Linked DNA regions of Homo sapiens: all the other regions are linked to region 2. The links come from fine-mapping of genetic effects on gene expression. A gene starts in region 2. Each other region holds a variant in brackets. All regions are shown on one strand. Distances are from middle to middle. Region 1 overlaps ZNF138 (zinc finger protein 138). Region 2 holds the start of ZNF138 (zinc finger protein 138). Region 3 overlaps LOC124901656 (a long non-coding RNA gene).

The links. PIP is the estimated chance that this variant, and not a neighbour inherited with it, causes the effect.
Region 1: its variant is the best candidate, but not a certain one, in a credible set for the expression of ZNF138 in whole blood (INTERVAL, PIP 0.70).
Region 3: its variant is the best candidate, but not a certain one, in a credible set for the expression of ZNF138 in whole blood (INTERVAL, PIP 0.74).

Annotation. Positions count from the first base shown.
Region 1 is chr7:64,831,582-64,842,398 of GRCh38, forward strand. ZNF138 (zinc finger protein 138) reads left to right here. Exons shown (of 4, transcript NM_001271639.2): 4 at 1-2,099. The coding sequence ends at 621. Among named protein-coding and RNA genes, the nearest start is that of ZNF138, 43 kb to the left of the region's middle. The variant A/G (reference allele first, on the strand shown) is at 5,388.
Region 2 is chr7:64,788,589-64,799,405 of GRCh38, forward strand. It overlaps ZNF138 (zinc finger protein 138), which reads left to right and starts at 5,840. Exons shown (of 4, transcript NM_001271639.2): 1 at 5,840-5,983. The coding sequence starts at 5,981. RefSeq lists enhancers at 5,566-5,615, 5,856-6,095, 5,880-6,440.
Region 3 is chr7:64,636,297-64,647,113 of GRCh38, forward strand. LOC124901656 (a long non-coding RNA gene) reads left to right here. Exons shown (of 7, transcript XR_007060350.1): 4 at 3,191-3,310; 5 at 6,656-7,135; 6 at 7,274-7,377. Among named protein-coding and RNA genes, the nearest start is that of ZNF107, 24 kb to the right of the region's middle. The variant G/A (reference allele first, on the strand shown) is at 4,400.

The DNA of each region.
Region 1 (10,817 bases), 43 kb after region 2:
GTGGATGAGTGTAAGGGACACCAAGGAGGTTTTAATGGACTTAACCAATGTTTGAAAATTACCACAAGCAAAATATTTCAATGTAATAAATATGTAAAAGTCATGCATAAATTTTCAAATTCAAATAGACACAAGATAAGACATACTGAAAATAAACATTTCAGATGTAAAGAATGTGACAAATCACTTTGCATGCTTTCACGCCTAACTCAACATAAAAAAATTCATACTAGAGAGAATTTCTACAAATGTGAAGAGTGTGGAAAAACCTTTAACTGGTCCACAAACCTTTCTAAACCTAAGAAAATTCATACTGGAGAAAAACCCTACAAATGTGAAGTATGTGGAAAAGCCTTTCACCAATCCTCAATCCTTACTAAACATAAGATAATTCGTACTGGAGAAAAACCCTATAAATGTGCACACTGTGGCAAAGCCTTTAAACAGTCCTCACACCTTACTAGACATAAGATAATTCATACTGAAGAGAAACCCTACAAATGTGAACAATGTGGCAAGGTCTTTAAGCAGTCCCCAACCCTTACTAAACATCAGATAATTTATACTGGAGAGGAACCATACAAATGTGAGGAATGTGGCAAAGCTTTTAACCTATCTTAACAACTTACTGAACATAAGAAAATTTACACTAGAGAGAAAGCCTACAAATGTGAAGAATGTGGCAAAGCCTTTAACCAGTTTTCAACCCTTATTACACATAAGATAATTCATAGCGGAGAGAAACCCCACAAATGTGAAGAATGTGGCAGAGCTTTTAACCAGTCCGCAAAGCTCACTGAACATAAGTTAATTCATACTGGAGAAAAACCCTACAAATGTAAAGAATGTGGAAAAGCTTTTCACCGATACTCAATCCTTAGTACACATAAGAAAATTCATACTGGGGAGAAACCCCACAAATGTGGAGAATGCGGAAAAGCCTTTAACTGGTCCTCAACTCTTATTACACATAAGATAATTCACAGTGGAGAAAAACCCTACAAATGTGAAGAATGTGGCAAAGCTTTTAACCAGTCCTCACACCTTATGAGACATAAGAAAATTCATAGTAAAGAGAAACCCTACAAATGTGAACAGTGTGGCAAGGTCTTTAAGAAGTCCTCAACTCTTACTGCACATAAGATCATTCATACTGGAGAGAAACCTTACAAATGTGAGGAATGTGGCAAAGGTTTTAGCCAACTCTCAAACCTTACTAAACACAAGAAGATTCATACTAGAGAGAAACCCTACAAATGTGAAGAATGTGGCATATCTTTTAACCAGTTCTCACAACTTGCTATACATAAGATGATTCACACTTGAATGAAACCCTACAAATGTGAACGATGTGGCAGTTGTTTTAACTAGTTCTCGAACTTTACTATGCATAAGAAAATTCAAACTGGAGAGAAACTCTACAAATGTGAAGAATGTGGCAAAGCTTTTAACCAAGTCTCAACACTTACTATACATAAGATAATTTATACTGGAGCAAAACCTTGGAAATTCAAAGAATGTGGTAAAACTTACAATCCTCAAAACTTCTTACACCTAAAATTCATGCAGGAGAGAAACACCACAAATGTGAAAAATTTGGTAAATTCTTTAACAAGTCTTCAACCCTTTCTGCACATAATATAATTCATACTGGAGAGAAACCCCACAAATATGAAGAATGTGGTAATGCTTTTAACCAATTCTCAAATCTTACTAAACAAAATTAATACTGAAAATGTTACAAACCAGAAAAATGTGAAAATGATTTTAACAAAACCTTCAAATTTTTCTAAACATAAAGGAAATCATACTGGTAAGAAATTATAAAAATGTGAAGAATGTGACAAAGCCTTTAAATGGTTGTCACACTTGATTGTAGGTAAGATAATTCATACTGGCAGAAACTCCCAGAAGTGTGAAGAATATGGCAAAACTTTAATTCCTATACCTTATTGCACAGGAAAGCATTTATACTTCAGAAAATGTTGTACTGATATAAAGAATGTAGAAAAGCCATTAATATGTGCTTACATCTTATTCAACATTAGAGAGTTAGTACTTAATAAAAGCATTATAAATGCAATTACTGTCAAAACTCAGCATAAGGTTTTGTTTTAGTGTGTGGTTTGTTTGTTTGTTTGTTTTGTTTTGTTTTTTTTAAATGAGACTACGTAATACTCTCTCCCAGGCTGGAGTGCACTGGTGCAATCTTGGTTTACCGTAACCTCTGCCTTCCAGGTTCAAGCAATTCTCCTGCCTGGGCCTCCAGAATAGCTGGGACTACAGGCATGTACCATCACGCCCGGCTAAGTTTTGTATTTTTTAGTAGAGACAGGATTTTACTGTGTTGGCCAGGCTCATCTCGAACTCCTGACTTGAAATGATCCATACACCTCTGCCTCCCAAAGTGCTGGAATAACAGGTGTGAGCCACTGTTCCCAGCCAATATAAGCCTTTAAAGTAAAAAAAGAGTTTTTATTTTGAAGACAAACATTAGAAACATAAAGAGGGTTGTAGTGCCTGCCTTACTTGTATCACAGATCTTATTGTACACATTTTGTATCCGAAGCAGTTGCTCAAACTTCGTTCAACATCAGGGAATTTATATCGGAGAAAAACTACAAATGTAATACATTTCAAAAATTTTTCAAAAACTACATCTTAGAAAACACCAGGGGATGCATACTAAACTATATTTTTCCACATGCAGTAAATATAAAAAAAATCAAAAATAAGGCTACGTAAGTATCAGAGAATTCACAGTAAAAATATCTAAGGCACTGACACTTCAAACATTGCACTAAGTAAATGTGCTGAGTATATAAAATAACCCAAAACTAAAGTGGGTAGATAAATTATTTGTACATAACTTTAAAAGAAGTAGAAATATTTTTGCAGAGTTACAATTACATTCAAAGTATACTTTTTTCCTTGAAAAAAATTGCAGAATTTATGAAAAGTGAATAATGTAATTCAACTCAAATTACTTCATGCTCTTCATTCCTATTGCATTCACTAGTGAAAGCATGTGATCAATTGTTGCTGCATCAAAGGTATGAGAGATTCTTTTTTGTTATGTCAATATTGTTTTTGAATTTTTCTATGGAAGAGTAAAGACATTACAATGTAGGATGCATGACAAAAGTCTAAGTGGAGAGGCTCTTTGTGTTTAATTTATAATATTGAGTGATGTATGAGGTAAGTGTTCAGAGTAGTATTCTGCGTTATACTCCAAACAAAATAATTTTAGTTAAAATTAATTAGTATATAATTTTACTAATTGTACTTTTATGTAATAAAATGCAGTACAGTTTGAAAGGCAATGGAAGGGCACCGTGGATCAATAAGGCCAAGAGGCGAGACAAAGAGGGCAAAAATCTTTATTGAGCTCTCGGGCGAGGTTCACTGGTCCACAGGGGGAGGGCCAGGGAAGTCGCACTGTGCCAAAGGTGCAGCGCGCTTTTATGGATGCTGGGTGAGGAGTGGGCAGGGTAGGGGCGGGGTCGGTTGAGTTTCACACTTCTGAGTGTGACACGCCCTAGTGGGCATGCGCGTTAGTCGGGGTGACGGGAACAGGAAAGGTGAACCCGGAAATGCTGAGTCGGGGTATCTGAGGTGGTGATCGCCATCTTGGAGTCTTCACTGGAGTCCAATCAGTCCAGCCTATTTTTGGTTATAGAAAAGGGGCGACGAAATCATCTGGCTACTTCCTGCTGTTAAGGGGTGTCACTGGGGAGAGGGCCTAAATCAGAGGTTGGCAGTTGGACGTAGGGGTGAAGTAACATCTGGTTGAAAGTGACCCTGGTGATTTCTTGTATCCGCTGGCGGAGAAACTGTACTAGGATTGGGGCAAAACACATTATTATACAGAGAATTATAATTGGGATAAGGAAAGGGAGCATCTGTTGAACCACAGGTGAAAACCACCAAGAAGGACCAGGGTGGAGAGGGTCCTAGGAATGTTTTAACTCCTCTTGGATCTTTTTTTTTTAAAGTTTGTAAATTGGTCTCAACTACCCCTGACACGTTGAGATAATAGCAGCATTCTTCCTGTAAGAATAAACATGTCCCTCCTTTTTCTGCTGTAAGCAAGTCTAAGGCCCGCCTGTTCTGTGCTGCGACCTGTGCTACCGAAGTGATCTGTCGCTGTAGGGAGGCCAGGGACTCGGCCGATGCCTCAATGGCCAACTGCAGGCGAGTAGACAGATCTTGAGATGTTTGGATTGAGTGGGTGAGGGCTCCTTTTCCTAGCCCTGATGCCACTAAGGAGGAGGCTAAGGAGATGCCTAGTACTAAGGGTAGGAAAATAGCCCGTTTGCTTTTATTTTGCAGCCTTGGCTCGGTCCAGGCTAGCAGATGGCTAAGTTCGTCCTGACTATATAGGGTCAGGCTAGGGATGAGAGAGACGAGTAAGCACAAGGTGTGATTACCAGTTGAGTTAAGAACTTTAGTTAGTGTGGAGTTACACCAGAAGTAGCCTCCGGGTGGTGCCAGGGCGCTGGTAAGCATCCTGGTCTGGTTACACCAAGAGGCATTTGGGGTAGAGTAACAGAACGGGAACTTGTGTCTTGTAGGGTCTGAGAATAGTGGGACCTGTCCTTTTGGGACCGGTGGTATAGGGGTGGATGAATTTCTTGTATAATTAAAGGGGGTAGGGAGAGGAACTGCTACTAAGGGAGGTCTTCCGAGGGCTGCACAGAGGAAGCAGTGGGAGAGGTTTTGTACCCCTGTGGATTGGAGCAATTGTGCACCTTCTGAAATTAAAAACCACGAGAAGGGGGAGGACTTGGCCTGGTCAGCTGCCGGTTGAAGCTGGCTGGCAAGCTCTTTCTCGGCTGACTGGATTGAGGAGGCTAAGTCGGATAACCCTGTGACAGTGGTTTTAAGGGTCCTGGCAATGCGGATCTTAGCTACTGGATACATAAAAGTTCTGTGCTCATATAGTCCTCCATCTACACCAGAGGCCCAGCGGGGGTCCTAAGGGTCAGAGATTTGGAGGTTAAATCCGTTAAAGCCGTCCCATCCTCCAGTGGAGGTACTGACATAGAACATTGGGTCAGATCCTTTTTCAGTACGAATTAATGCCTCATGGATATTGCACCAGTGCCACGGACAGCCTACATTTTCTTTGACCCAGCTGGTATTGCATTTGGAGTTACTTTGATCATACAGGAAGCAAAGTGCAGGGTTTTTTCTAGCCTGGCCTAGGGAAGAGAATTTTAGACCTAGGAAAGCTATGGGTGCCTGGCACCCTGCTGGCGGGCATGCTGCCATGGCTAGTAGTCTAGGAGACTGCCTGTGTGGAACTCCAATTCTCAGTGAGGGGAAAAAACCCAGTGAGAGGGAGTCTGAGAGGGGGCTTGTCAAAGCGAACTTCATGTTGGTGA[A/G]AGTTCTGGAGGGAGCCTTGCCACACCAGTTCGTCTATATAGGACAACAGATTTTCAGGCCAGCGAAAGGTGTTAGCAAAAGTAGGGAATGACCAGCTTTCCTCGAGAAGAACCTGAATAAATTGTTGGAGCCTGTCACATGGAGAATTCATGCGGTATTTGATTTAAAGAGTTTCAGTTTGGTTGGGGGGAGGGAAGTGACAGTCCAAGTGGCCTGATGTTGTGTAGGTGCCCTCTTAAGATGGGAAATATGGTACCAGGAGGGAAGGCCTGTAAGTTTAGCTGCCGTCGGTGTTGTAAGAATTACCATGTAGGGGCCTTTCCACGGGGGGAGAGACCTCTTGCCTGGAGGTCTTTTACTAGTACCTGATCTTCTGGGGTTATTATGGCTGGACTGTCTGGGCTGAGCGGTCCGGGCTTTGGAAGGCTGCAGTTGGCATGTTCTCTTAGCAGCTCCCTTAACAGGGTGAGGTAGGGCAGGTACGTGCCAAGAGGTGGGGTATTCACAGGGAGCTCTTGAAAGAGGAAGGGGCGCCTGTATAGGAGTTCAAAGGGGCTAAGGCCTGTGGGGCTTTGGGGTGCTGCCCAGAGCCACGCGAGGGCAAAGGGAAGTAAGGTTACCCAAGATTGGCGCGTCTCGAGAGCCAATTTGATTAGGTGTTGTTTGACAAGGCTGTTGGCGCGTTCCACTTTTCCAGAAGACTGCGGATGGTATGGAGTGTGTAACTTCCAGTTAACGTCAAGTGTGGTTGTCACCTGTTTGACTATTTTGGAGATAAAAGCAGGCCAAATCTTGGGGTTATCTGTTCGATGAGGGTTGAAGCTACTACCTCTGCTGTTTTATGAGTGGTAGGGCAGGCTTTAACCTAACCTGAGAAAGTGTTTACTAAAGTAAGAAGATAAGTTGATGTATTTGCTTTAGTAAGGAATAAAGGGAAGGATGGTAGATTATGGGTTCAAGAAAGTTATATAGTGGTCTAGGCGGAAGGGCAGTGAAGGCGTCTGGCGGTAGGTGGAGGGAATGCCATCAATCCTTATAACAGAGATTGAGGAGGGGCGGCTGGGTCTGCTAAAAGATGGCAAAACAGAGTAGGTAGCCCTTGTGTCTAGTAAAAAGGAAATGGACTTACCCGCTACCTGAAGCATTACCCTGGGCTCGGCAAGGGTGAGAGGGGTTCCCAAGTCTGGGCCTCTTCAGTCGTCATCCAGTTGGAGGAGCTGGAGGGCACCTTCGCCATCCGAGGAGGGGTCGCCATGTGGAGACACAGCGGCCGCTCCGAGGCCGGGGCAGTCTGACTTCCAGTGCCCCATTTGTTGGCAGTTAGGGCACGGGCGTGTTGGCGGCTTGGGGTTTGGGCACTGTTTTGCCCAATGACCTGGATTGCCACACTTGAAACAGTTGCAAGGCAGGCAGGACGGTTGCTGTTGGCTAGGGCACCGGCTGGCCGTGTCCTGAGTTGCCGCACTTGAAGCAGGTGCCAGACGGGGCCTGGGAGATCGTACCTCTACCTCTCCTGCTGGGGCTCTTAGGGAATGCCGGTTGCAGGGCAGCTGCCAGGGCTTGGGTTTGGAGCTGAACTTTTTGTTTCAGTCTTGCCTGTCGTTGTACCTCAGCCGCCTCCTCTCGGGAATTAAAAACTTTGAACGCCAGCTTTACTAAGTCCTGGATAGGGGTTTGGGGGCCCTCCGCTGCCTCATCCAGGATTAGCGGATATCACTGCCCGCAGCGAATGTGTTAGGAGTTGTAGATGTAGTGGACTGGTATGGCACTACAGGGAGGTGGAAATAAGAATGGGGGTAAGATGGAAGCCAAGGAGTTAGGTGGGCAGGGTTAAAAGAACAAATGGGAACTAACAGGAATTAAAATGGCGGCCAAATGGCGGCAGAAGAACTAAAATGGTGGCAGAGAAAAAAGGAAGTAAGATGGCGGCGGTGAGGAAGCAGGTAGTAAGATGGCAGTGGTGCAGAAGGAGATGGCGGCGGAGAGACTAAGATGGGGGCCGTGGACAAGATTAATGGCAAGAGAGGCTGGTCAGACTTCAAGGGGAAGGCTAGCCAGAGGGACTTGTGCCAGCGAAAACACTTGGCGGCAGCGGTCTGACGAGAGCGGAGGTCCCAGAACCTTTGAACAAATTTGATTTTTGACTATTTGCCTCGCCTCTGACAAAAATTGGTAAGGTCGTTTAGGATATTGAAGTTGAGTGTGCCTTCGGGGGGCCAGCGAGATTGGTTGTCTAAGGTATATTGCGGCCAGGCAACTGTGCAGAAGAAAATTAGTTGCTTTCGTTTTAAATCTTGGTCGAGTTGTAAAGTTGGGAGGTTGCGCAGGAGGCACCCTAAGGGGGTGTTTTGCGTGATTTTGGACTGGGTGGACCCCATCCTCTTCCCTTTATGGCAGCCGTCTGAGGGACAGCAGAAGCGTCCTTCTGGGGTCACTCAGACCACGCAGCTCCTGGAGCCTCGGATCGGCTACTTCAGACACAGACGTCTCTGAGTCGTCAATGCCGATTTGGACTTCCCCTGGGGAAGTAAACTTGGGTCTCCTGGTGACCCGGACTGGCCTTCCCTTGAGGAAGGAAACTCTCCCTGGGTGTGCGCATGACTCTCGGCCAGGGAGGAATGGACAAAAGGAAAAAGGAGGGGTACTCACCCAGCGTCTGCCGAATTGGACTGGAGTAGCTGCAGCAGCTGTGACCTGGCGGCAAGTAACCGGACGAAATGGACCGATGGCCGTGGAGGAGAAGCCTGACCTGACTGAGGGAGAGGCCTGATCCGACCAGGAGGGGAGTCTTCCCGAGCCTCTGGGGGGCTTAGGAGGTGTCCCCTCCCGTGTTTCGGCACCAATGAAAGGCAATGGAAGGGCACCATGGATCAATAAGGCGGAGAGGCGAGACAAAGAGGGCAAAAATCTTCTTTATTGAGCTCTCAGGTGAGGTTCACTGGTCCGCAGCGGGAGGGCCAGGGAAGTCGCACTGTGCCAAAGGTGCAGCGCACTTTTATGGATGCTGGGTGAGGAGTGGGCGGGGTAGGGGCGGGGTCGGTTGAGTTTCGCGCTTCTGAGTGTGACACGTCCTAGTGGGCATGCGCGTTAGTCGGGGTGGTGGGAACAGGAAAGGTGAACCTGGAAATGCTGAGTCGGGGTATCTGAGGTGGCGATCGCCATCTTGGAGTCTTCACCAGAGTCCAATCACAGTTTTAAAGATTTAGATTATTATAAACTTAATTTTTTAATTAAAAATTTTAACATAAGACCACTGTGCATTCAATGAAGTATTATTATGCCACTAACTTTTACCTATCCTACCTTACTCAAGGGTGTAGGTCAAAGATGGTAACAATAGACTATTTGATAACATAATGGACTAACATCTCCAATAATTTATTTTGCCAGTGGCTTCAAACTGCAAATAAATTAATGAATATCGTTCCCGTTGGTTAAATTTTTTATTTATAATTTAAACTTATTTTTCTCAATTTTTGTGTGTACATAGTATCTGTTTATATTTATGTCATTATATGGCATTTTTTGATACAGTCATATAATTTATGTATTAATCAGATAAGGGCAAATGAAGTTTCCATCAACTCTAGCATTTATCTTTTGGATTACTAACCCATTCTACACTTTTACTTACTTTAAAATGTACAATTAAATGCTACTGACTACAGGGTCATTTTTATGAGTGAAATAAAAATTATTTACAAGTATAAATAAAACCCTGAGTCTTAAAATTCTGAGTTCTGCTTAAACATTTAAAAAAATTTGTTATGTATTTTTCTTTGAACATTTGGTCTCTCTCTGCCTGCAAACATACAGAATTTTAGTTTTAATTTACATAAAATTAGCTATGCACGTATGTTACTCTAAATAAACCTTAGGTGCAAGAAAATTATAGAGTATATATGAGGATGAGTCTGTACCTATTTTCAGAAGAATAGAGCAATATTGTAACAAAACAAATATTTTAATAAGGTGACTTATTAACTGAAACTGAAAACCTCAAAAATGCTGAAAGCAAATCTATACTCTGCTTTTTTTTTAAATTTATTACTGTAAAATCTTCTGACTTAGGGTTCAGAATCTCCCCATGAAAAATTTCTGTTTTTCCTTGCCTAGTACTCATGCTAGACCTATAATTTTCTTGTCTCTTACGATTTTTTCTTTTATAGTTTATGAGGTATTCATTACGTGAGCTGGTCATGACTAATAACGATTTTTATAAAATTTAATGCACACTGAACAATTTTTAGATGTATTTCCAAAATTGTGTATTTTATTAGGACATTTGATTTTTTCTTTTAATTGGAGAATTCTACATAAGCCTGTATTTTTTAACTTTTTTTGTTCTCATTATAATTGACATAAATATATTTATTGAGGCAATTTGTTCAGATAAGAACTCGGGATGCTTCATAAGTCATGATGTTTTTTAATATATAAATGTGGCGAACAAACATGACAGTGCTTGCTGTGTAGCAGATGCTCCATGATAAGCCATAAATATTCCTGCTAGAGTTAGTTTGTAAGTTCAAGTCGGAGAGGGAAAATATCAATAGTGAAGAAATAAGATTGATTCTTCCCGTGGAGATAACAATTGTTTTCATGCTGCGAAGCTAAATATTGCTGAACCTAAAGAGAAACTCTGTTTCTTTTATTTCCTAATTATCTTTAGTTTTGTTTGTCTTATTATGTGTCTTCTGTGTATTCATCACAGCCCCTCTCCCTTTTTTCTACGTGATTGCTACAGTTTTCTCATTGTCTTCATGCCATGTCATTTTACATGGTACTTTGTAGGTTTTGATGAGAAAGTTGGTATTTTTAATGCACTCAAAAATTGGTTTTAGTTAGAGAGTTTGCTTATCAATATAACTTTCAGATCAGTTAATTAAGATAAAACGCATACACTGTCCATAGATCAGAGGATTAAATAACTTAGCATTGTTTTTCTGTTTGTAAACGGAAAATCTTATTAAATTCTTACACAGAGTGTGACACATTTAATATTTGCTAGAAAATGCATCTTAGAAATTAAATTATTAAGAGTTAGTGGTGAGGAATTTTAAATTTAATGTTCTATGATATAGCACAACACAGATTTATTTATTTATTTATGAAATGGAATCTTGCTCTGTCACCCAGGCTGGAGTGCAGTGGCGTGATCTTGGCTCACTGCAACCTCCGCCTCTTGGGTGCAAGCAATGCTCCTGCCTCAGCCTCCCTAGTAGCTGGGATTGCAGGTGCCTGCCACTACACCCAGCTAATTTTTGTATTTTTAGTACAGACGTGGTTTCACCATGTTGGCCAGGCTGGTCTCGAACTCCTGACCTCGTGATCTGCCCTCCTCTGCCTCCCAAAGTGCTGGGATTATAGGCGTGAGCCACTGTGCCCTGCTGAATCTTTTATTTTTAAGTGTGAATGTTAAAGGTTGC
Region 2 (10,817 bases):
CACTTTGGGAAGCCAAGGCAGGCAGATAACCTGAGACCAGCAGTTCCAGACCAGCCTGGCTAACATGGCAAAACACTGTCTCTACTAAAAATGCAAAAATTGGCCGGGGTGGCTCACGCCTGTAATCCCAGCACTTTGGGAAGCTGAGGCGGGCAGATCACGAGGTGTGGAGTTCAAGATCAGCCTGACCAACATGGAGACTAAAAATACAAAAATTAGCTGGGTGTGGTGGTGTGTGCCTGTAATCCCAGCTACTCGGCAGGCTGAGGCAAGAGAATTGCTTGAACCCAGGAGATGGAGGTTGCAGTGAGCCGAGATCGTGCCACTGCACTCCAGCCTGGGCAACAGAGTGAGACTTCGTCTCAAAAAAATACAAAAATACAAAAACTAGCCTGGGCGTTGTGGCCGGCACCTATAATTCCAGCTACTTGGGAGGCTGAGGCAGGAGAATCGCTTGAGCCCCAGGGGCGAAGATTGCTGTGAGCCCAAATCACACCACTACACTCCAGCCTGGGCAACAGAGCGAGACTGCATCTCAAAAAAATAAGAAAATACAAAAATACAAAAATTAGCCCGGGTGTGGTGGCCAGTGCCTGTAATTCCAGCTAAGGAAGGAGACCACTACTACTCCTGCTGCCCTCCTCCCACACCTTGCCTAGTTCACAAGACAGGAGGAGAGAAAAAGCAAAAAGTTGGAAAAAAAACAAAAGTAAGATAAATAGCCAGACAACCTTGGCACCACCACCCGGCCCTAGGAGTTAAAAAAAGTAACAATAATGACATCAACCCCTGACCTAAACTACTTGTGTTATCTGTAAATTCCAGACACTATATGAAAAAAGCATTGTAAAGCTTTTTGTTCTGTTAGCTGATGCATGTAGCCCCCAGTCACGTTTCCCATGCTTGCTTGATGTATCACGACCCTTTCACGTGGACCCCTTAAAGTTGCAAGCCTTTAAAAAGGCCAAGAATTTCTCTTTCGGGGAGCTCGGCTTTTAAGACGTGAGTCTGCCGACGCTCCCGGCCAGATAAAAAACTCTTCCGTCTTTAATCCAGTGTCTGAGGAGTTTTGTCTGCGGCTCATCCTGCTACATAGCTACTCGGGAGGTTGAGGCAGGGGAATCGCTTGAACCAGGGGGGCAAAGATTGCAGTGAGCTGAGATTGTTCCACTTCACTCCAGCCTGGGCAAAAGAGCGAGACTCTGCCTCAGACAAACAAACAAACAAAAAAAGATTTAAAAAATCAACACAAGATGGATCAAAGACTTAAGTCTAAGTCCTGAAATTATAAAAATTTTAGCAGATAATATAGAAAAAACTCCTCTACACATTGGCTTAGTCAAAAAGTTTGTGACCAAGTACCCAAAACCAAATGCGACAAAAAAAGATAAATAAATGTGACTTAATTACACGGAAAAGTTTCTGCACAGCAAAAGAGATAATTCAAGCAGTAAACAGATAACCCACAGAGTGAGAAGAAAGGTTCACAAACCATGCTTCCAACAAAGGACTTATATTCAGAATCTGCAAGAAACTCAGGCCGGGTGTGGTGGCTCAGGCCTGTAATCCCAGCACTTTGGGAGGCCAAGGCGGGCGGATCACCTGAGGTCAGGAGTTCAAGACCAGCCTGTTCAACATGGTGAAACCCTGTCTCTACTAAAAATACAAAAGTTAGCTGGGTGTAGTGGCAGGTGCCTCTAATCCCAGCTACTCAGTAGGCTGAAGCAGGAGAATCACTTGAACCCGGGAGGCGGAGGTTGCAGTGACCCAAGATCGCGCCATTGCACTCCAGCCTGGGCGACGAAGCAAGACTCTGTCTCAAAACAAACAAACAAAAAAACAAAATAATGGCACTCAGAGCAACCTGGATAAAGTTGGAGATCATTATTCTAAGTAAAGTAACCCAGAAATGGAAAACCAAGCATGGCATGTTGTCACTTTTTAGTGAGAGCTAAACTATGAGGATATAAAGGCATAAGAATTATGTCACATAATGGACTCTAGAAACTTGGGGGAAAGGGCGGTGTGGGGTTGAGGGATAAAAGACTACACATTGGGTACAGCGTATACTGCTCTGTAGATGGGTGCACCAAAATCTCACACACCACTGCTAAAGAACTTATTCATGTAACCAAACACCACCTGTACCCCCAAAACTATTGAAATAGTAATGATAAAAACAAGAAACACAGAAAACTCCATAAGTTTAAGTTTATATGCTTTGGCATTTTATTTTTTTTAGAAAGGGTCTCCCTCTGTCACCCAGAATGAAGTACAGTGGCTTGATCACGGCTCACTGCAGCCTCGACCTTTTGGGCTCAGGCAATTCGCCTTCCTCAGCCTCCTAAATAGCTGGTACTACAAGTGCGGGCCACCATACCCAGCTAATGTTTGTATTATTTGTAAACATAGGGTTTTGCCATGTTGCCCAGGCTGGACTTGTATTCCTAGGCTTAAACAGTCTTTGTTTCTTGGCTTTTTAAAGTGCTGGGATTAGGTTGGGCACAGTGGCTCGTGCTTGTAATCCCAGCATTTTGGGAGGATGAGACGGTTGGATCACTTGAGGTCAGGCATTTGAAACCAGCCTGGCCAACATGGTGAAACCCCGTCTCTACTAATTATCTAATTCTCTAGAGAATTTTGCAGCCAACTTTATATATGAACAAACTTATGCCTTGATAGGTACAAGATGAAGGGTCAATGTGGGTGAGAAATTCTAATGGGACATTTGTTGCCTCATAATATCAGAAACACAGAATATAGGTCCACTGCTCTTAACCTACTTCAGAAGTTAAAAAGAACTCATTCACAATAAGTTTCAGAGCATTGCCTGGCCATTACTCTTCTAAATAAGCATCATTTGTTAGGTCTTTTTTTTTTTTTTTTTTTCATGGTTCAGGGTAAAAAAATCAGGCATTGGTTAGACATTTATCCTTCATAATAGTCTCTATAGCAGATTCTACTGCAAAGGCTATGGTTACACAATAGACTTTTTTTACTAAAGTTGTGCTAAATAATGGAATTTCTTGAGATTACTTATTGCATAAACAGAAAAGTATCTGTGTAGTTGCTAATATGCATAGTTGCACATGGAGAAATATATTATAGAGATTATACAGAAATATATTACACGTATTACAGAGATTCAGTTACGGGGGTTTAAGAAACAGGCTGCTTGGTTGAAATGAGGAGACCATTTATTTAGCTGATAACTTGGTCTATCTCTCAAAATTGAGAAGATAACCAAAAAGGAGAAATTGTTAAATTATAGCCTGAAGCTCTCTGTTTTCATGTTTAATTTTGGTCAGTAGGTTTTTTGTTTGTTTGTTTTTCTTTTTTTTTTTTTTTTGGTACATACTAAACTGAAACCTAACTGGATATGTAAGTAGATTATAACCCATTCCTGTACCAGCCACTGTGATTTTGCCAATAAAAGGACATCAACTCTTCAAACCATGTTCAAATAAGGCAAATCCCAAGCTGTAATCAATTTGGCTGTTTCTGTACCTCAATTTCATTTTCTGTATGCCACTTTGCTTTTTCTGTTGATCAATTTTTTTACCATGTTGCTGTGCTGGAGTCTCTCTGAGCCTATTCTGGGCCCACAGGCTGCCTGATTTGCAAATCATTCTTTGTTCATTTAGACTCTGTTACATTCAATTTCTCTGAAGGTTTTGTTTTTTTTTTTAGATGTTTACAGATTTTATCTATGATAAAAAATAAGTAATGTGTTGCTGGGCTTTGATTTTCTCAACTCATCCCTCATCTATCTTTTTCCACATATGCTATGTCCTTTTGAAATGCTCCTGCAACTTTTTTCTTTTCTGTTTCTTTTCTTTTCTTTTTTTTTTTTTGGAGAAAGGATCACACTCTCACCACCCAGGCTGAAGTGCAGTGTCGTAACCAATCATGGCTCACTGCAGCCTCGACCTTCCAGGCTCAAGTAATCCTCTTGCCTCTGCCACCTGAGTAGCTGGGACTACAGGATTGCCTCATGCTGGCTAATTTTTATTTTTATTTATTTTTATTTTTTATTTTTTTTGAGACGGAGTCTCGCTCTGTCACCCAGGCTGGAGTGCAGTGGTGGGATCTTGGCTCACTGCAAGCCCCATCTCGTGGGTTCATGCCATTCTCCTGCCTCAGCCTCCCGAGCAGCTGGGACTGTATTTTTAGTAGAGACGGGGTTTCACCGTGTTAGCCAGGATGGTCTCGATCTCCTGACCTCGTGATCTGCCCTCCTCGGCCTCCCAAAGTGCTGGGATTACAGGCATGAGCCACCGCGCCCGGCCATGACTGGCTAATTAAAAAAAAAAAAATTTTCATGCACATAGGATCTTAACTATGTTATTCAGGCTGCACTTGAACTCCTGAGCGCAAGTGATTCTCCCATCTCAGCTTGCCAAAGTGCTAGGATTATAGATGTGAGCTACCGTGTGCTTCTTCAATTTCTTAAGATTATTTCTAGCAATAATAATAAACAGTGCTATATGGGCACAAATCTAAAAGAAATCTGGCTTCTATTTTAGAAGTGTCACTCTCCAGGATTTCAAGGGTCAAATGGAGTTAATTCTGAGTCCCAGCCCAGCCACTTAATAGCTGTGGGTCTTTGCACAAATTTTTTTTTTTTTGATGTGGAAGAGTTATATAAACCACATATGCAAAAAAAGGCAGAATGATACTGATTGCAAAAATGTTAGCAATTTTTCATCCCTCCGCTATCCATGCCCATTGCCAGGTGCATTTACAGCTGTTTCCATTGAGATCCAGTTCTGTTTTCCAAACCCTAGATCTGGCTGGCCTTATTTGCTCAGGGCAGTAAAAACCTGTGAACAGTGCAGTGTGCTAGTTTGAGGCGTAGGCTCAAATGGTTTTGCATGCTTCTGTTTTTCTTTCAGAAGGCTACTATCTCCGCGAAAAAAGCCCATGTTAGCCAGATGGAAGATAAAATAGTATGGGGAGGAGAAGCAAGTTGCCTCTGTTGACAGCCTCAGAAGCAGAAGCTCACCCCCAGAAGCACAGCTGCCTAGTCAACAAGCAGCTGATGATACATGTCTGAAGGAACTCAGCTGAGGTCACAAGAATGGTCTCACTGAGCCCAGCCTAAATGACTAACCATCTCAATTAGAGTGAATTCCACCTGTTTATTCTTAAAGTTTGACTACTAGAAAATTTGGAATTCACATGTGCTCTGTAATCCCAGCACTTTGGGAGGCCGAGGCAGGTGGATCACCTGAGGTCAGGAGTTCGAGATCAGCCTGACCAACATGGCAAAATTCTGTCTCTATTAAATATACAAAAAGTAGCCGGGCGTGGAGGCGGGTGCCTGTAATCCCAATTACTCAGGAGGCTAAGGCAGGAGAATCACTTGAGCCCGAGATGCGGAGTTTGGGGTGAGCCGAAATCGTGCCACTGTGCTTGAGCCTGGGTGAGAGTGAGACTCTGTCTCAAAAAAAAAAAAGAAAAAAATCTCAGGCTGCCTGCTCAAAGGACCAGAAGCCAGTACGGTTATAAAATCTGGAATTTAAAAATAATTGTTATATTCAGATGTGAATAGCTATATGTTATTTATAAATGCATACGACCTTATACACAAGGTTAAATGCAAATGCCCTCTGGGGTGGGCCTGACTCAGCTCAGGGAGGAAGCCCTTCTGGAAAAGGCTGCTGCTTAGGTTTAACTCTGTCTTCCTTCAGCCCAGCACCTGAGCACATCTGTCACTCAGGGCCTGAGGGGGCGGGTTGTTAAACGTTATCCAATCAGGGACGCCGGGCTGGGAACGGTCCAATCAGGCACCCAGCTGGAGCGGACATGACGTCTTCCGGGAGGCGGCGGGGTCTTTGTCTCGCTGCAGCGGGTGCTGCAGGTCTGGCCTTCACTTTTCTGCGTCCTCTTACTCCTAGAGGCCCAGCCTCTGTGGCGCTGTGATCTGGTTATTGGGAGATTCACAGCTAAGACGCCAGGATCCCCCGGAAGCCTAGAAATGGTGAGAGTGCTGGGTCCGACATCCCGAGAGAGGGGGAGGGAGCTGGTTGGAACCGGTCGGAAGTGGCTGTGGCAGTACTCGGGTCTTCCCGCAGTCGGCTGCAAAATCCGCGGCCCCGAGTTCTTGGCACAGCTCGGCCCTCAGTCCCCTTAAGCCATAGCATGGCAGCTGGGCTGACAGCCGGAACCAGGCGTCCTGTCTCCTCCCTGCGCAGTGACTGTGCCCTGGCCTGGAGCCCTCTCTGAGCAGCTCTGCACCCGCAGCGATTGTGCAGAGACGACGGGAGGGTCGTCAGGGGAGAATCCTGACTCGGGGTGCTGGGTTCATGAATGGGAAGAGGTTTCCTCCGCGGGCTTCCCTGTCCCTCTTTTCCCCTATTAAAATTTATGAAAGTCACCGCAAAAAAATTAATTTAATCAAACAGTGATTCAAGAATTGTGGAGCACCCAGCTGTGGTTTGCAGTAGTGGTCCGTGGGAGGGGTTTGAAGGAAACACTTGTATAAGGTGTATGATAAAACCAAATTCAGTAATTGGTTAGTAGAGTTATGTAGTTTCTTAATTTGTACAATGAAGGAGGAAATTTCCTGGTCATGTAATCAGAGGTTAATTGGCAGTTTACAGTTGGTTAAACATGAATTTTATTTTTCACAAGGTAGTAATTTACAAAAAAATGCATTTGAGTTAGATTTTTTTAAAACCAGAAACCCTGGGACTGGAGCGACCTCAGTCTAATTGCCTGCCACTTAATTATTTTCACACTCCACAGGGGACAGATCTTCCCCTTCATTTTTCACATGTGTCCCAAGCAGGGTCTCAAGACTCCTCCCCCTCCCCATTTCCCATTCCTTCAGCCTAACTCTGGCTTGCAGTAAAATACTAAATTTCCAGTTCCTTCTGACATTCCCAAATGCCAACTTCCCCTTCCTAATTCACATTATCAACTATTTGTCCTTTAGTGTACATTTGAAATACTGTATTTTAATTAATCATTTTTTGACAAAGCATGGATGGCATTTTAAAAAAGATTTGTTATCTGTTTGTAAATATTTCCCATGAGAAGAAACCAAAGACTCATCCCCTGATGCTGTATTGTAAAAAATCTCTGTGCCTTTTTTTTTTTTTTTAAATCTTCCCTAGGTACAGAGATCTTATCAGAATATTTTTGGGTCAAGGTTTCCCTTTGGAAACTTTATAAGGTAATGTGTCCTTAGTCACTCTTCAGTTTTTTCCTTGGTCCTGGGTTTCAGTACTTTCTGAGGATAAATCAAAATATCCACTGTGGCTGTGTATGCTAGAATCTCTGGTAAATTTCAGCTCCTGGCCTGGAATGAACTCTGGTTATCTGGGAATGGGAGACAGAGGACAACCTGAGGTTGGAGTGTAGCCTCTCAAGGGAGCAGGTGAATGCCCTGGGGCTGAGAGGAATCTCCTGGTGTACTCTTCCTTTGAAAAGCAAACCCTTTGAGAAGTTAAGATTGTCTTCAAACCAACCCAGTGTCCATTTCCGGAGACATATTGCTGGTCAATCAATCATATGCTGGTATTGAGGGGAGAACACAGAAATAATTTCGGCCCACTGGATTCTCTAAGATTTGTGAAAGAAATGATAGTATCCAAAAAGACAAATCAAACCTTACCCCAGTGAGATGGTTCAAGAACTTGCAAAGTGAAATGTACTTGGGGCAGTCACTGAGGCATAGTGCAGCGTCTTCAGAGAGGGTGGTCTTCAGAGAGGGTGGTCGTTTAGCACTTAAGTGAGCAGGATGGGGTGGGAGAATCTCTCAAGTGATTGGGTGGCTTGACTTGACATGTGAGTGAGATACATCTGTTTTTTAATCAGCACTGCCACTCCCTGGGATTGTCACCCTGAAAAGATTTGTTCACTTACTTCAGTGTTTTAATTGTAACTTGCAGTTTATTAGTAGGACTAAAAGGTAAGAGGATAATTAGAATGGGCATGAAAGAGATGGGTTTTGGAAAAAAATATCTAATCATATATTCTATTTGTTAAGTATTCTCATTTACCTTTTTCTTTCCCAGACTGAGTTTAGGAATTTTCTCAGGTCTGTTTTTTTATGGCTGGGTGATGTCCAAGAGTATTCCAAGGCTTAGCTTTTAGAATGCTACCAAGGAAAAGAATAGGGAAAATACTTCTTCCATTTTGGCTGTGGAAAACGAATACATTTCCGGCGGGGTGCGGTGGCTCATGCCTGAAATCCCAGCACTGTGGGAGGCCAAGGCAGGGAGATCACCTGAGGTCAGGAGTTCTAGACCAGCCTGGCCAACATGGTGAAACCCCATCTCTACTAAAAATACAAAAATTAGAAATTAGCCATGAATGGTGATAGGCACCTGTAATCCCAGCTATTCGGGAGGCTGAGGTGGGAGAATCATTTGAACCCCATAGGCAGAGGTTGCAGTGAGCTGAGATCGTGCGGCTGCACTCCACCTTGGGCGACAGAGCGAGACTCCATCTCAAGAAAAAAGAAAGAAAGAAAATGAATACATTTCCACAAGAAGATGTGGTAGATAATTGGTGAGTTATACAGATTCATGAAAATATCAGTTCCTCCTTTTTCAGGGTACATTTCAGTGAATACCTCTCTTCTGTATCCAGTCATCTTGATTTCTGAGGTTAATGCTAAATTTTTTAAGATGAAACTTGGTCTATCCTAGAAGTGTTCCCATATGACTAATTGTTTACTACATCATTTTTAATGGATATAATAAAATAATTATTTATCGTTTTAAAAGATTACATACTTTTGCATTTGAGATATGTGACGTAAGTGCTTTAAAATTTCCTTCCCTTATATAAACACTGTGTTTGAGTAATTTTGCTGAATTTTTCAGTTTAAAAAACCATTTGAACAACTCCGACATGGAAATTAAAGCTTGCGCCAGTGACTGCAAGCTAAGGCTAATATTGAGCCTACAAAGGGAAGGGAGGTTATTAAAGGCCCAGTTAGTTCTTTCTAGGAAGCCTCCCCTGCGGATGTCGGAGCCTGCTCACCCCAGCCATGGAAGAACCTTTATACTGAGAGAAGCTACAGAGCCCTGGAAAACTGGAGACCCACAGGCAGATGCAGTAAACATTAAGATGGAAGGGGATTGGGAGGGTCATACTCAGGATGAAGTTGTTATTGTTTTGAGGCAGTTTCTAGACTTTGTAAAATAAAACAAAATTAGGTTTATTTTTTAAAAAATTCTAAAATACTGCAACAGAAGGAAGTACCAACTATATAATCTTTAAGGATTGCAAAGTTTAGGCAGATAAAGGCTTTCTTAGGGAGGAGCAAAAAAGATTAGAAGGTGAGAGGGGAATGGCAAATGGAGGGTGTATAAATCAGATTTTATTTTTTATTTTTTAATTAAATTATTTTTTTGAGACAGAGTCTTACTTTGTTGCCCAGGCTGGAGTGCAGTGGCTGGATATCACCTCACTGCAACCTCTGCCTCCTGGGTTCAAGTGACTGTCATGCCACAGCCTCCTGAGAAGCTGGGATTACAGCCGCCCACCACCATGCCGGGCTAATTTTTGTATTTTTACTAGAAATGGGGTTTTGCCATATTGGCCAGGGTGGTCTCAAACTCCTGACCTCAGGTGATCTGCTCTTCTCAGCCTCTCAAAGTGCTGGGATTACAGGCGTGAGCCACCACGCTCAGCCCAAATCAGATTTTAGATTAGAAAATGTTTTACCCTGAAGTCAGCAAGTTTTTAGGAGAAACATAAAATGGGGTTGTATGTTGGCTCAGACTGAGTAGCTCAAAGTTCAGGAGCTGTGGGAAGGAGATAAACTTAACTATATTTTGATTAAGAAGTATTTTATTTGACCGCTGAAGAAAAATTCGGCTATTTTTTTAAATACAAAAAAGAAAATCTTATACATAGTGCTAGCTAGTTATTCCAGTACCATTTTATTAAATAGGGAATTCTGGCCGGGCATGGTGGCTTACGCCTGTAATCCCAGCTCTTTGGGAGGCCAAGGCGGGTGGATCACCTGAGGTCGGGAGTTTGAGACCAGCCTGACCAACATGGAGAAACCCTACAAAAAAAATAGTCGGACATGGTGGCCCATGCCTGTAATCCCAGCTACTCAGGAGGCTGAGACAGGAGAAACGCTTGAACCTGGAGGCGGAGGTTGTGGTGAGCCGAGATTGAGCCATTGCACTCCAGCCTGGGCAACAAGAGTGAAACTCCGACTCAAAAAAAAAAAAAAAAGGAAATTCTTCCTACATTGATCTTGTCAGCTTTTTTGATGATCAGATGGTCAGATGGTTGTAGATGTGTGGCATTATTTCTTGGCTCTATTCTGTTGCATTGTTCTATGAGCCTTTTTTTTTTTTTTTTAATCACTACCATGCTGCTTTGGTTACAGCCTTATAGAATAGTTTCAAGTTGGATAATGTAATGCCCAGCTTTGTTCTTTTTGCTTAGAATTGCCTTGGCTATTCAGGCTCTTTGTTGGTTTCATATGAATTTTAAAATAGTTTTTTTAGTTCTGTTAAGAATGTTTTTGGTAGCTTGATAAGAATGACATTAGATCTGTAAATTTCTTAGGGCAGTATGGCCATTTTAATGATATTGATCTTTTCTTTTCTTTTTTTTTTGAGATAGAGTTTTGCTCTTGTTGCCCAGGCTGGAGTGCAATGGCACGATCTCGGCTCACCGCAACCTCTGCCTCTGGATTCAAGTGATTTCTCCTGCCGCAGCCTCCTGAGTAGCTGGGATTACAGACATGCGCCACCACGCCCAGCTGATTTTATATTTTTAGTAAAGACGGGGTTTCTCCATGTTCAGGCTGGTCTTGAATTCCCAACCTCAGGTGATCT
Region 3 (10,817 bases), 150 kb before region 2:
GGCCTGAGCATATTTTGGGTACTGTGATATATCTCTTAGCCCAACACCCAGGGGCTGGGAGGCTTCTGCTTGGGCCCTGTCCACAGGGGGCCTTTTGACATATTTCTGCATTTATCACCTAGGAGATGTAACTCTTCATTCTGCCTGAACCCTGGCCACGAAAAAAAAATCGTGACAGATTTTTTAGGCCAGTAACCAGGTGATGTGAATTTCCTCTCCTACCTAGGCACTGCCCATAGGGGGCACTGTGACATATCACTGGGCTCCACACCCAAGGTATGTGATTCTTCTGCCTGTTCCCTGCCCACATAAGGCATTATAACATGTTATTTAGTCCAAAACCCAGGTAATGTAACTCTCCTGCTTAGACCCTGACTACAGGGGGCACTGTGACATATCTCTATGCACATCTCGCAGGTGATATGACACTCTCGTTTTGCCTGATCACTGCTCATGTGGGGGATTGTAAAATACCACTGGGCCAAGCACCAAAGTGACATTGCTCTTTTCTCTTTGGCTTGGCCTTGCCCTCAGAAGGCATTGTGACATATTGCTGGACCCAGCACCAACGTGATGTGAGTCTCTTTCCTGAACTCTGTCCACAGGGGACATTGTGACATATCTCTGGGCCTGTCAACTACTTGATGTAACTCTCTACTCTTACCTGGGCATTGCCTGTAGAAGAGATTGTGACAATTCCCTCCTGAAAGCAGAACACGGGCAGCCGAGTTACATAACCTGGACGCATGGCCTAGTGATAGTTCCCAATCTTCCTTGTGGGCAGGGTGCAGGTAGGAAAGTCATATCTTCTAAGTGATAGATGCAGATAAGTATCAAAAGGTCCCCACATAGGCAGGATCCATGCACAAGCCTCCCATCTCCCAGTGGTGGGGCCCAGCAATTTGTTACGATACCCAAAATATGTGAGGCCCAGGCAAAAGGAGAGAGTCACATCACCTAGGTGCTGTGTTCAGTGATATGTCACAATCCTTCTATTTGGCAGGGCTCTGGTGGAATAAGAGAGTCACATCACATAGGTAATAAAGAAAAAGATATTTTAAAGTACCCTGTGGGCAAAACCCAGGCAGGAGAGTCACATCATGTAGGTATTGGACTCAGCCATATGTCATAACACACAATGAATACAGGACCCAGGCAAAGGAGGAGTCATATTATTTAGGTGCTGAGCCCACAGGTATATATCAGAATCTCACTTTTTGGCAAAGCTCAGATGTGAAAAGAGCATCATATCCAATAGTTGAGGGGCCTAGAGATATGTCAAAATGCCCTGGGTGGGCAGGGACCATGTGGAGGATTAAGGTAAAAGAGGAAAGTTACATCAAAAGTTTATAGACTAAAAAATACGTTGCAGTGCTCTCTGTGGGCAGGGACCAGGCAGAAGAATTACATCACTTGTGTGCTGAGGTCAGCAATAAGTCACTTTTTTTTTTTTCTGAGGGGGTTTGTCCAGAAGGAGAGGACCCAGAGACAGAGATATGTCAGAATCTTTCAAAAGCAAAGTGCAAGTAAGAATAGAGAGTCACATCAAATAGTTGATAAGTTTGAGATATGTCACAATGTGTCTCCAGGCAAAAGAGCCACATGATTTTTGTGCTAGGCCCAGCAATAGGGCTGAATGCCTTTCCAGGTCAGGGCCAAAGCGAAACGGTAACATCCTGTTAGTGTTGGGTCCAGTGGTATGTCACAATTTTCCCTGAAGACAGAACCTAAAAACAATAGAAGAGCCACAATCCCCTCTGTTAGCATGAATCAGGAAGGGGAAGAGATTTATGTAACCTGGTTGATGGGTACACACATATATCACAATGTCCTCTGTAAGAAGTTCCCAGGCAGGGAAGTTTCATTACCTAAGTGTCAGGAATCAGGAAGGAGAAGAGATTTATGTAACCTGGTTGATAGGTACACAAATATGTCACAATGTTTCCCGTAAGCAGTGCCCAGGCAGGAGAGTTACATTACCTAAGTGTTAGACTCAGCAGTATGTCCCATTGGCCCATGTGGGCAAGGCACAGGCAGAAGAGCCACAAATCCTTGACACAGGATGCAGCAATATATCATAATGCTCCCTGTATACAACACCAAGGCAGAAGAAAAGACTCACATAACTTGGGTGCAAGACCCAGCAGTATGTCATAATTCTTCATGTGGGCAATGACAAGGCTTGAGAGTAGAGTCACACCACCAAGGTGCAGGGTCGAGCAATATGTCACAATTTTATCTGTGAGTTCACTCCAGGCAGCAAAGTCGAACCACTTAGGTGCTGGGTAAAGGTGTATGTCACAATCACACTTGCAGGAAGGTCCAGGAATAAGATCACAATCCCACACATGTTCTAGTTCTAGGTGGGAGTGTCAACATATCTTGTATGTTGGGTCAATCTCTCCCAAGAGGATTGACCGTACACCCATATCACACCCTGCTGACAGTAAAGATTGTTATCATTTCCCGTGAACACAGCCCACTGTTGAGATTCTGAAACTCACACCTGGAGGCAGTCAAAAGTTGGAAAATTGACTCTCATATGTGGATCAGGTCCACAAGTGTTCTGGTGACTCTCAGGCTAAGATTCAGCAAACCTGTGAGGCTGGGACTCTACTAAGGTGAGATAGTCTGCAGGAAAGATTGAGGCTCCCATGCACTGATCCAGTCCACTGCTGAGATGGTGACTCATGTACTTAAACCCAACATACAAGAGGTGCTGACTTTCATACCTAGAACCCGGACATGTGTGGGCTTGTTAATACCATCCCTGCACCTTCCTACAGGTGTGATAGTTAAATAAGTCTCTGCCCAGCTCTTAAGTGATTTGACTCTCTTGCCTGGGCCCGGCCCACAGTTCAAAATGTGCCATGTTGCTGGACCTGGCCCCTAGGTAATGTGATCTAGTCTCCTGTCTCAGCACTGCCCACAGTGGGCATTGTGACATATCACCGGGCCTTGCACCCAGGTGATGTGAGTCTTCTCTTCTGCTTTGGCACTGCCCAAAGTAGACATTGTTACATATCACCAGGCCTTGCACTCAGGTAATGTAACTGTCTTGTCATGGCCCTGCCTGCAGGAGGCTCCATGATGTCACTGTCTTCTTCTACCTGGTCTTTGCTCACAGCGGGTATTGTGACATATTGCTATGCCCAGAATCCAGCTGATGTGACTCTCCTCTTTTTTCTAGGTTCTGCCCACAAGGGAAATGGTGACATATCACTGTGCCCAGCACCAAGGTGACGTTACTCTTTTGCCTTGGCCCTGCCCTCAGAAGACATTGTGACAAATAGCTGAGCCCAGAACCAAGGTGAACCTGCCTGAAACCTCCCCACAGGGTCATTGTGACCTATCTCTGGGCCAACCAACTATTTAATGTGTCTCTCCTCTCTTGCCTGGGACTTGCCCATAGGAAAGATTGTGACATATCTCTGGGCATAGGACCTAGGTGATATGACTTGCTGTGCTTGTCTGGGCAATTTCCACAGAAGAGAGAATGACTTATTCCTGGGCTCAGCATACAGGTGATGTGATTCTTCTGCCTGATCACTGCCCACAGGAGTTATTGTGACATGTCTCTGGGCCAATTACCTAGATAATGAGACTCTTCTCTTCTTTCTGGGACCTGTCCATGGCAGGGATTGTGACATATGGCTTGGCCCAACACCTACCTTTTTTTTTTCTCCTTTTTTTTGAGATGGAATTTTGTTCTTGTTTTCCAGCACGTAGTGCAATGGTGTCATCTTGGCTCACCGCAACCTCCGCCTCCAGGGTTCAAGCGATTCTCCTGCCTCAGCCTCCCAAGTAGCTGGGATTACAGGCACCCACCACCACACCCAGCTAATTTTGTATTTTTAGTATGGATGGGGTTTCTTTGCCCCCCTTATTTAGGCGATGTGAATTTTTTTCTTGGGGCCTACCCTCAAAGGGTATTGTGACAAATTGCCAAACTCAGCACCTAGTTTATGTGACTCTTTTCTATTGCTTGAGCTATGCCCTGAAAGGGACTGTGATGTACCACTGGGCCTAGCACCTAGGTGACATGACTTGCATCTTCTGCCTGGGTACTCTATATATTGTGTATTGTGACATATGGCTTGGTCCATTGAGACTCTTCTGCATGGGCTCTGGCCACAGGGGTATTATGAAACATTTTTTTATTCATCACCTAGGTGATGTGACTCTCCTCTTCTTCCTGGGCCTCACATATCAGTGGACCAAGCACCTCTGTGATTTGACTCTCTTTTTTTCTCAAAATCCACATACTTTGGATATTGTGACATATTGCTGGGTCCAAAACTTTCAGAAAGGGAAGTTCCTGCCTGGGCACTGCCTTGTGATAAATATCTGCATTGTCACGCATAGGGCCTTGTGATATATATCTGCGTCTGTCACCAAG[G/A]AGATGTAACTCCCCTCTTCAGCCTGCATTCTGTCCACATGGAAGATTGTGACATATTCCTCTCCCAGCCCCCGGTTGATGTGACTCTCCTGCTCAATCCTTACCAACAAATGAGATTGTGACATATATCTTGGCCTAACTTCTATGTGTGATGATGACTCTCATTCCTCAAATTAGCTAGTAAAAATAAATACTCTCTCTTATAGCTAGGCTGAGGGAAACAGGTAAGATGCTGGGTCTCCTCTTTGTACAAAGATCATAAAGAATTACCACTTTCTCCCACATTGTATAAAGCCCTTGGGTGATGCAGAGAGCGTAAATTCAGGGGAGATTTTTCTTTTCATAGACACACCCAGCCAACTATTAGCACTGTCACCTTGACACATGAAGAGAGCCCAATGGTGACATCCTCAATCCAACTTATGGATGCAGTCCACGGTTAGATTTGTGATTGCATATGTGAACATCTGAACATCTGGCCACAGTTGGAATGTTTACTCATTTCTTTTTCTCTTTTTTTTTTTTTTGAGACGAAGTCTCGCTCTTGTCACCCCGGCTGGAGTGCAATGGCGCAATCTTGGCTCACTGCACCCTTCACCTCCTGGGTTCAAGCAATTTTCCTGCCTCAGTCTCCCCAGTAGCTGGGATTACAGCCACCTGCCCCCACATCTGGCTAATTTTTGTATTTTTAGTAGAAATGGTGTTTCACCATGTTAGCCAGGCTGGTCTCGAACTCCTGACCTCAGGCAATCCACTTGCCTCAGCCTCCCAAAGTGCTGGCATTACAGGTGTGAGCCACCACACCCAGCCCATGGTTACTCATTTCTAAACCGAGCTTATAGGCAGGTGAAGACCCTCCTATCTAAAACCAGTCATTTTAAGAGATATTCAGTCTCATATCTGTGCCTACAACCACAGGTAAGATAGTGGTTATAAGCCCAAATACAGTTATAAACCTAGAGCATTGTGACATATCTCTGGATCCAAGTACAAAGGTTTCAGAGCAGATTGCAACTCTCATGCATACTGTGTGATGTCCTTAGTAAAACAGAGAGGGTCCCTACAGTATCCAGCACACAAGTAAAATTGTGACACTTGTATGCACACATGGCCAACAATAAAGACTGTCATTCAACCACATAAACACAGCCAATGTTGGGGTCCTGAATCTCACAACCAGAGGCAGTCAAAAGTTGGAAAATTGACTCCCATACATGGATCTGGTCCACAGGTGGGTTTGTGACTCTCAGGCCAAGATTCAGCAAACCTGTGAGGCTGTGACTCTATGAAGAATATACAGTGGACTTGAGGGACTGTGGCTCCCAAGCATGGATCCAGTCACCTGTTGAAATTGTGACTCATGTACTTGGACCTTACATACAGGAGGTATCGACTCTAATACCTAGGACCGGGACATGTACATAATTGTTCATTTTATCCCTGGACCTTTATGCAGGTGTGATTGTAAAATATTTCTTTGCCCAATACCTGAGTGATTTGACTTTCCTAGCTGGGCACAACAGGTGGAATTGCGACATATTGCTTAACTCAGAACCTACGTGATGTGTCATTATTCTCCTGCCTTGGTATTGCCCACAGGGGCATTTTGCTATATCTCTGGGCTTTGCACCAAGGTTATGTGGGCCTCCCCTCCTGCTTTGGCACTGCTCACAGGGGTATTGTGACATGTTGCTGGGTTCTGCATCTTGGTACTAGATGGCTTCTGCCTGTGCCCTGTCCCCAGGAATAATTGTAAAATATTGGCTGGGTGCAGTGGCTCATGCCTGTAATCCCAGCACTTTGGGAGGCCAAGGTGGGTGGATCAAAAGGTCAGGAGTTTGAGACCAGCCTTGCCAACATGGTGAAACTCCGTCTCTACTAAAAATACAAAAATTAACTGGGCATGGTGGCACGCACCTGTAATCCCAGCTACTCAAGAGGCTGAGGAAGGAGAATTGCTTGAACCCAGGAGGCGGAGGTTGCAGTGAGTTGAGATCATGCCACCTCACTCCAGCCTGGGCAACAGAGCAAGGCTCTGTCTCAAAAAAAAAAAATCGTGACATATTGCTACGTTCAACACCCAAATGATGTAACTTTCCTGCCTCAGTCCTGCTTAATGGGGGCATCATGTTATATACCTCTGCACCTGTCACTCAGGCAACATGACTCTCTTCCCCTGCCTGGTCCTTACAGAGGAGATTGTGACCTACTGCTGGGCCCAGCACCTAGCTGATGTGACTCTTCTCTTTTTCCTAGGTTCTACCAACAGGGAAGATTGTGACATATCACTGGGCCTAACACCAAGGTGTAGTTACACTTTTGCCTTGGCCCAGAACTCTGAAGTTCACTGTGACGTACTGCTGGGCCCAGCACCAAGGTGATGTGAGTCTCCTGCCTGGAGCCTGCACACAGGGGCTATTGTGACATATCTCTGGGCCCATTTACTATTTGTTGTTACTCTCTTCTCTTACCTTGGCTTTGCCTGTAGGAGAGGCAAATCCCAGCACTTTGGGAGACCAAGGCGGGACATAACTCTGGGCCCAGCACCTAGGTGATGTGACTCCCTTTTCTGCCTGGATGGTGCTCACAGAAGAGAAAGTGACTTATTTCTGGGCCCAGCAGAGAGGTGATGTGATTCTTCTGCCTGGTCCCTGCCCACAAAACTCATTGTGACTTAACTCTGGGCCCATCACCTAAATGACGTGACTCTCCTCTTCTTCCTGTGTCCTGTACATGGTAAGTATTGTGACATTTCACCAGGCCTTGCACTTACTAATGATGTGATTTTTCTCTCATGCCTTGGGCCTGCCCACTGAGATAACTGACATAGCTAAACTCAGCCTTTATGTTATGTAATTTTCCTCTTTTTCTGAGTTCTACCAACAGGGAACATTGTAACATATCTCTGGGTCCATCACCTGGATAATGTGACTCTTCTTGGGACCTATTCACAGTGAAAATTGTGACACATCTCTTGGGTAAGCAACTACATGATATGACATTTCTGTTATGCCTGGGCTCTGCCAACTGGGGTGATTGTGACATATAGCTGGGCCCAGCCCCTAGGTTATGTGACTCTCCCTTTGTTTCTGAGCCCTCCCCAAAGGGGAAATTGTGACATATATCTGGGCCTGTCACTCAGGTAATGTGACTCTCCTGCATGAGCCCTCTCCTCAAAGGGTATTGTGACATGTTGCTGAACCCAGAACCTGTGTGAATTGACTCTCTTCTACTGATTGGGCTCTGACCAAGAAAGAATTGTGACGTATCATTAGGCACACCACCAAGGTAATATGACTCTTCTATTGTTTGGGCTTTGTCCAATGAGGGATTTTGACATATTACTGGGCTCAGATCCAGGTGATGTGACTCTCTTTTACTGCCTGAACCTTGCATACATTGCATATTGTGATATAGGACTGAGGCCAACACCTAGGTTTTGTGACTTTTCTGCATGGGGCCTACACACAGGGGCATTCTGTCATATATTTTTGTTCATCACCTAGAAGATGTGACTCTTCTCTTTTACCTGGGCATGGCCAAAAGGGGATTGTGACTTTATTAGTCCATTCTCATACTGCTATAAAGAACTGCCCAAAACTAGGTAATTTATAAAGGAAAGAGGTTGAATTGACTCACATTTCAGCATGACTGGAGAGGCCTCAGGAAATTTACAATTATGGTGGAAGGCAAAGGAAAAGCAAGGCACCTTCTTTACAAGTTGGCAGGAAGGAGAAATTCTGAGCAAAGAAGGAAGAGCCCCTTATAAAACCATCAGATCTTGTGAGAACTCACTATCATGAGAACAGCATGGAAAAAAACCACCCCCTCATTTAATTACCTCCACCTGGTCCCTCCCTTGACGTGTGGGAATTATAAAGATTACACTTCAAGATGAGACTTGGATGGAGACACAGAGCCAAACAATATCTTTGACATATTGGTGGACCAAAATCCTAGATGATGTAACTCCCCTCTTTTTGCTTTGCCCGACATATTTTTGGTACTATGACATATTGCTAGACCCAGAACCTAGGGAATGTGAGTCTCCTGCTTGAGCCCTGCCTGCAGGGAGCCTTGTGAAATCCATCCATCCCCTAAAAATTGCATCTGTCACCTAAAACTTGTGACTCTTCATTTCTGCCTGCATTTTGCCAACAAGAAAAATTCTGACACATTTCTGCATGCAGCAACCAATAGACGTATCTCTCCTGCCTGGGCCTTTCCTACAGGGAGCACTGTGACATATTGCTGGTCCCAGCACCCAGATGAAATGATTCTGCTTCTTCTGCGTTGCTTTCTTTATTTTTTTTTTTTTAATTTTATTATTATTATACTTTAAGTTTTAGGGTACATGTGCACAACGTGCAGGTTAGTTACATATGTATACATGTGCCATGCTGGTGTGCTGCACCCATTAACTCGTCATTTAGCATTAGGTATATCTCCTAATGCTATCCCTCCCCCCTCCCCCCACCCCCCAACAGTCCCCAGAGTGTGATGTTCCCCTTCCTGTGTCCACGTGTTCTCATTGTTCAATTCCCACCTATGAGTGAGAACATGCGGTGTTTGGTTTTTTGTCCTTGCGATAGTTTACTGAGAATGATGATTTCCAATTTCATCCATGTCCCTACAAAGGACATGAACTCATCTTTTTTTATGGCTGCATAGTATTCCATGGTGTATATGTGCCACATTTTGTTAATCCATTCTATCGTTGTTGGACATTTGGGTTGGTTCCAAGTCTTTGCTATTGTGAATAGTGCCGCAATAAACATACATGTGCATGTGTCTTTATAGCAGCATGATTTATAGTCCTTTGGGTATATACCCAGTAATGGGATGGCTGGGTCAAATGGTATTTCTAGTTCTAGATCCCTGAGGAATTGCCACACTGACTTCCACAATGGTTGAACTAGTTTACAGTCCCACCAACAGTGTAAAAGTGTTCCTATTTCTCCACATCCTCTCCAGCACCTGTTGTTTCCTGACTTTTTAATGATTGCCATTCTAACTGGTGTGAGATGGTATCTCATTGTGGTTTTGATTTGCATTTCTCTGATGGCCAGTGATGGTGAGCACTTTTTCATGTGTTTTTTGGCTGCATAAATGTCTTCTTTTGAGAAGTGTCTGTTCATGTCCCTCACCCACTTTTTGATGGGGTTGTTTGTTTTTTTCTTGTAAATTTGTTTGAGTTCATTGTAGATTCTGGATATTAGCCCTTTGTCAGCTGAGTAGGTTGCAAAAATTTTCTCCCATTTTGTAGGTTGCCTGTTCACTCTGATGGTAGTTTCTTTTGCTGTGCAGAAGCTCTTTAATTAGATCCCATTTGTCAATTTTGTCTTTTGTTGCCATTGCTTTTGGTGTTTTAGACATGAAGTCCTTGCCCACGCCTATGTCCTGAATGGTATTGCCTAGGTTTTCTTCTAGGGTTTTTATGGTTTTAGGTCTAACATTTAAGTCTTTAATCCATCTTGAATTAATTTTTGTATAAGGTGTAAGGAAGGGATCTAGTTTCAGCTTTCTACATATGGCTAGCCAATTTTCCCAGCACCATTTATGAAATAGGGAATCCTTTCCCCATTGCTTGTTTTTGTCAGGTTTGTCAAAGATTAGATAGTTGTAGATATGTGGCGTTCTTTCTGAGGGCTCTGTTCTGTTCCATTGATCTGTATCTCTGTTTTGGTACCAGTACCATGCTGTTTTGGTTACTGTAGCCTTGTAGTATAGTTTGAAGTCAGGTAGCGTGATGCCTCCAGCTTTGTTCTTTTGGCTTAGGATTGACTTGGCGATGCGGGCTCTTTTTTGGTTCCATATGAACTTTAAAGTAGTTTTTTCCAATTCTGTGAAGAAAGTCATTGGTAGCTTGATGGGGATGGCATTGAATCTATAAATTACCTTGGGCAGTATGGCCATTTTCACAATATTGATTCTTCCTACCCATGAGCATGGAATGTTCTTCCATTTCTTTGTATCCTCTTTTATTTCATTGAGCAGTGGTTTGTAGTTCTTCTTGAAGAGGTCCTTCACATCCCTTGTAAGTTGGATTCCTAGATATTTTATTCTCTTTGAAGCAATTGTGAATGGGAGTTCACTCATGATTTGGCTCTCTGTCTGTTATTGGTGTATAAGAATGCTTGTGATTTTTGCACATTGATTTTGTATCCTGAGACTGTGCTGAAGTTGCTTATCAGCTTAAGGAGATTTTGGGCTGAGACAATGGGGTTTTCTAGATATACAATCATGTCATCTGCAAACAGGGACAATTTGACTTCTTCTTTTCCTAACTGAATGCCCTTTATTTCCTTCTCCTGCCTAATTGCCCTGGCCAGAACTTCCAACACTATGTTGAATAGGAGTGGTGAGAGGGGGCATCCCTGTCTTGTGCCAGTTTTCAAAGAGAATGCTTCCAGTTTTT